Linked DNA regions of Homo sapiens: region 1 is linked to region 2. Evidence: fine-mapped expression QTL. A gene starts in region 2. The other region holds a variant in brackets. All regions are shown on one strand. Distances are between the middles of the regions.

Region 1 (2,500 bases), 60 kb before region 2:
TTAATTGTTAAATAATAGGTCATGGGGTCAAATTCATGCCACTCAACAGATTGTCAGTGGGTGTACCTAAAGTCACTCATGTGACTTTATCACGTGTGATAAAGTTAAATCCTTTATCACACGTGATAAAGGTTAATCCTTCATTACCTGTACACAGTTCAGTTCAAGGCAGCACAGCTACCCAGCAGTGCCCATTTAAAAAAGGAATCTGACATTTTCATAAACTTCCAGTTTTGTTCCTAAATCAAGCAAGGTTTATTTTTATAACTCAGAAAATATTGAAAAGGTGAAAGGGAAAACAGAAATGGTAAGGGGAAAATGTTTTGCCAAAATCTTTAGAAGAACCTTTGAGTCAGTTTTTTCATCCTTAAAGCAGAGAAAAATAAAGGATGTTCTCATTGACTTCTCAGGAAATAAGACTTTCTTTGGGGAGTTTATAAATTTGCTTTGAGCTTTTTAGAGCTCACCATTATGTAAATTTAGGCTATGTTATTTTGTTGTAGTTTAGTCAGCCATTGCATTTTGAATCATTTATTGTTTGGGCCAGTTTCTGAAATTGGGCACAAAACAGAATATTTTATCTCCTCACTATCAGGGAACCTAGAAAATCATAGATTTCCTTTAATCATTGATAGAATGCTTATGGATCATGCAATTTTTAAAAACTACATTATAGATTTGTCTTGCTGATACTCAGAATCCAATCTGACAGTCTTTGGTCTAAAAATTAGAGCAGAAGCCAGGAACGGTGGCTCAGCCTGGGTGCAGTGGCTCACACCTGTAATCCTAGCACTTTGGGAGGCCGAGGTGGGTGGACCTGAGGCCAGGAGTTTGAGACCAGCTAGGCCAACATGGCAAAACCCCATCTCTACTAAAAATACAAAAGTTAGCTGGGCATGGTGGCGTACACCTGTAATCCCAGCTACTTGGGAGGCTGAGGCATGAGAATCATTTGAACCTGGGAGGCGGAGGTTGCAGTGAGCCATGATTACACCACTGCACTCCAGCCTGGATGACAGAGCAAGACTCTGTCTTTATAAAAAAAAAAAAAAAAAAAAAAA[AAT/T]CAGAAAAAAATTTCTGAAACATTTTTGAAATGTTACTAATTCACAACAATATTACAAATATATTCCTAAGATCTGGATAAAAGAATTCATACCACAGTAGGGAAAGAGCTGAGCTGAGCCACAGCAGTTATAATTGACCAAAATCACTTATCTTTTAGTTACAGGTTAGACTCACTTTAAAGAGATTAAAATTCTTCCACAAAAATAGCAAAGAAACAAGAGGAGATTTTATTTACTGAACACTGTACCTGCTATATGCCAGGCACAGTTCTAAGCACATTATAAATGTAATATTAACTCCTATAATCATCATGACAGCACTGTGAGGCCCATGCTTGTTATTTCCGTTTTATAGATGAGGAGACTGAGGTACAAAGGCAGTAACTTGCTGAGGTCGCGTATCTGGTCAGTGGCTGGTTCATTGGACCCCAGGCTACCTACCAGGTATATGACCTAGTCTGCCAACTTAATTTTCTATATGTCCAAAAGATGTGCTTTTTTAAAAAATAAAAAATTTTTTTTAGAGATGGGGGTCTTTCTGTGTTGCCCAGGCTGGTCTCGAACTCCTGGGCTGAAGCAGTCCTCCCACCTCAGCCTCCCAGAGTGCTAAGATTACAGACATGAGCCACTGCACCTGGACTGTGCTTTTCTAACGGCTTTACTTTATGGCTGTCAGATTTTCCTGCCAATTAGAGTTCAGCAAAATAAAGGATTGTGTTAAATTGCAAACCATCATATGGTCCATGCTGACTAACCATGTGAGTATGAGTCTGTATTTTGTTGGATTTTTCTCAGCTGTAATCACAATTTTGCTGGTTTTACTTAGAAGCATTTATAATGCGATCATTATTCCAGCTTTTTTTCTTGAGTATTTTCAGTTTGGGGTTTGGAAAATAATTTTTTTCCTGGAAGCAAGCACATGATAAATGCCTTTAGACCTTGAAGGTGGCTTTTCTCATCTCAATTTTTGGGTGGATGTTCTTTCTTCTCCCTTTTGGAACAGGAAAGGTCTCAGCTAGAATAATTAGAAAGGTAGGGTTATAATTTATAAAACCTGTAAGAGACAAAAAAAAAAAAAAAACCAATTAGCTGGGCCTGGTGGCAGGCACCTGTAATCCCAGCTACTCGGGAGGCTGAGGCAGGAGAATCGCTTGAACCCAGGAGGCGGAGGTGAGCTGAGGTCACACCATTGCTCTCCAGCCTGAGTGACAGAGTGAAACTCTGTCCCCTGCAAAAAAAAAAAAAAACCTGTAAGAGCATGTACTGTGGAAGTCCATGTGTCGTGTAGGCGCATTGGTGTAAGTATGTGTACATTCCTAAAGTTTAGGAAGATGTTCTGTGTTATAAATTGTACTTGTTTACAAAAGTTGTTACAAGAAGAACATTCCTTCTCTCAGCTTTGAAGTGAGTATATATATACTCAATGTACTATAATT
Region 2 (3,018 bases):
AAACCTCCACAAAACAAGCCTCTAGCTGCACCTCGGGGCCCTATAAAAACCAAAAAGCGTGTGCAGGTCCAATGCGAGGATATGAAAAAAATAACTCCTGCCTCAAAGAAACACGGGGTTTCCATCCTGGTCCAGCTCGTGGAAGAGCGTTTCAAGCCAACTTTGGATAAAGCAGCTCTTACGGCCGTCGCTTCTCCCACTGAGGTCTGTCCTGCTGGTGCACTTACTTCCAAATGCCCCTTCCGGGAAAATGAAACCTTCCACCACCTTCGACGATCAACTGCAGAGTAAACTTGCGGAAAGTGAAGGAAAAAGCAGACACCTGATTCCTTGCAAGTCCCAGAACAAAGACGAAAGGACCACGAGTCCCGTTGTTACCATTTCTACATCCCAATCACTTGGGGTGCAATGCCCCAAGATCTAGGAAAAGGAATCCACCCTTTTGCCCCCACAAAATGTGTTCAGAGCCAAGGGTGAGCGGACCCGCACTCTCCCACACCGCATTCGGGCAGCCTGTCTGTCCCTCCCATAAAGGGCTCTGGTCAAGATCCAAGTCAAGCCGGACCCACTCCCACAAGCAGAGCTGTGAGGTCCTGGGGGTTAGGGCGGGGGTCCTCAGAGCTTCCAGGGCCAGTCCCCAGGCTGCAGACCCACTCACCTGCAGACAGGACAGCCTCCTACGACCACGATAGAGTTGGCAGGATAGCGGGTGACGGTCCGGCTGTGGATGTTGTAGACCCTGGGATGGTGGGTGGGTATCCCTGTGGGCGGGAAAGCAGGTCATTAGGGTGCAGGGAGGAGAAATCGGACCGCCACGGGGACTACTCATCCTGTCCCCTCAACCTCCACCCCGCTAAAAAAGCCCCCGGTCTTTTCCACCCTCGGGACGGCCACCGCGGGCCTGATTCGGCGCTAATCTGCCAACAGCGAGCGCCTCGTGACACAAAGTTCATCTGGGGCAGGGATCCGGCCCCGCCGGGTTACGACGGGCCCGAGGACTAGAGCCCCGGGGGGGAGGCTGGCCCTCGGCGGCGCCGGGTCCCGAAGCCAGCCCGGGGACCTCCAGCTCCAGGAAGGACCCCCGGGCGGGCCCCACCCGCCTCCGGACCCACGTCCCCCGACCGGGCTTGCCACCTCGGAAGCCGCCGGCGGGGAAAGTTGGTTACGGGCCCACCTGTGACGAGGTAGGGGTAGGGCGGCGGCGGGGGCGCGGCGGGGATGGCGCCGTAGCCGTGCGGGCCGCACGCGTAGTCGCCCTGGCCGGCCTCCAGGTTGTAGGCGGGCGGCCGCTCCTGCAGCAGCGGCTTGTGGTCCATGGCGGCCCGGCCGCGCCCGCCGCTCCGGCCCGGCTCGGCTCGGTCGGCCCCGGCGGGGGACGCGGCGGCGGCGGCGGGGACGCGGCGGACCGGGTGGCTCGGGCCCCTCTGAGGCAGACGCGGGGCGGGGCGGGGCGGGCGCGAGCCGCGGGCTTCCCCCGCCCTCCCGGGCCCAGTCACAAGACCGGGGTCACGTGGGCGGCGGGAGGCGGGGCTCGGGGGCGGGGCCGGCGGGGCGTCTTAAAGGGGCCGCGCCCTCCCGAAGCCGCCCCGCCGGCGGCGCCTCTGCACTCCGCCCCGCCCCGCCGCCGCTGCTCTCTAGACCTCCCGTGGCGGGGAGACCCCCCCCCCCGCCCATCCCCCACGACGACCCAGAGACGCCCCATAGGGTCATGACCTTTAGGGCTCGCGGATGCACCCCCACCTCCCCCTACGCCCCGATCTCCCAGGCCGGCCGAGGTCCCCCTACCGGTGGAGGAGGGGGAGGGCGGGGCCTGAGAGGGGGCGGGGCCGGGTGGGTCCCAGGCCGCCCCAACGCCAGCCCTCTGCCCCTATGATCGCCAGCGCTTCCAGCAATACAAAGGGCACACCCGGGTGTGCACCTCAGCTGCGGCCTGCGCGGTGCTCAGCTGCGGCGCATTCCCTCCGTTTGCCTTTTTTTGGACAATTAGGTGATTGACGGGGGTAGTAGCCAGTGCTTACAAATAACTCCCCCGTTTGGGGACAAAACTATAAATACTGGGCACCTGCCGCGTCTCCTCAGTTTCCCTAATCTTCAGGCAGCCCTGCCAGGTGTTTTGCTTACCCCTGGAGGACAACACGGGATCGGGCTCAGAAGGGGGAGGGATTTGGCTGTGGCAGGTGCGGGTCAGAGCCCGTATCTAAACCTGGGTGTTTTCTGGCCTCGGGGACTGCGTCAGGCGCCCTCGTTGAAACATTTCCTCATACAAGGCTTCACGGGTTGGCCAGGACAACTTTAAAACGAACGATTGGAACGTTCAGGATTGCTTGCGTCCTTAGCGCCTCTGCACCTTTTCAGGGGCACCTGTATCCGTTACTGTATTCTGTCTCCAGTTTTCTCACCTGCATTTTGATATCACCTGCACTGTAGCTCTGGGACGACTACAGCTCTTCTCGAACCGCGCCTTTTTAATTTTTAAAAAAAAAATTTGTAGGGGGTGCTGGGGGGGCTCTCTTGCTCTGTCACCCAGGCTGCAGTAGAGTGACACAGTCATTGCTCAATGCAGTCTCGACCTCCTGGGCCCAAGCCATCCTCCCACCTCAGCCTCCTCAGTAGCTGGGGACCACAGGCACACGCCACCATGCCCAGCTAATTTTTAAAAATTTTTGTATGGGATCTTGCTATGTGCCCAGGCCAGTCTCAAACTGCTGGCCTCAACCAATCCTTTTGCATCAGCCTCCCAAAGTGCTGGAATTACAGATGTCAGCCCCTGCACCCGGCCTTATTTTTATTTTTTAATAAGGGATCATCATTCACATGTATATATACACACACATACATATATATATATATATATATATATATATCTTTTTTTTTTTTTTTTTTAACAGAGTCTCACTCTGTGGCCCAGGCTGGAGTGCAGTGATGCAACCCTGGCTCACTGCAACGTCGACCTCCGGGGCTCAAGTGATCCTCCCATCTCAGCTTCCTAAGTAGCTGGGGACTACAGGTGCACGCCAC

Direction of the effects. Positions count from the first base shown, and alleles are read on the strand shown. Sizes are in standard deviations (SD) of each study's normalised expression.
As copies of AAT replace T in region 1, the expression in monocytes of the gene that starts at base 1,426 in region 2 goes up (moderate effect, 0.72 SD a copy in Fairfax 2014).

Evidence for each region. PIP is the estimated chance that this variant, and not a neighbour inherited with it, causes the effect.
Region 1: its variant is fine-mapped to the expression of BRI3 in monocytes (Fairfax 2014, PIP 0.95).

What each region holds. Positions count from the first base shown.
Region 1 is chr7:98,340,605-98,343,104 of GRCh38, reverse strand. The region is part of intron 3 of BAIAP2L1 (BAR/IMD domain containing adaptor protein 2 like 1); the gene reads left to right. Among named protein-coding and RNA genes, the nearest start is that of BAIAP2L1, 59 kb to the left of the region's middle. The variant AAT/T (reference allele first, on the strand shown) is at 1,062.
Region 2 is chr7:98,280,094-98,283,111 of GRCh38, reverse strand. BRI3 (brain protein I3) reads right to left here and starts at 1,426. Exons shown (of 3, transcript NM_015379.5): 1 at 1,175-1,426; 2 at 659-761. The coding sequence starts at 1,316. RefSeq lists silencers at 935-1,274, 1,405-1,914 and an enhancer at 1,611-2,595.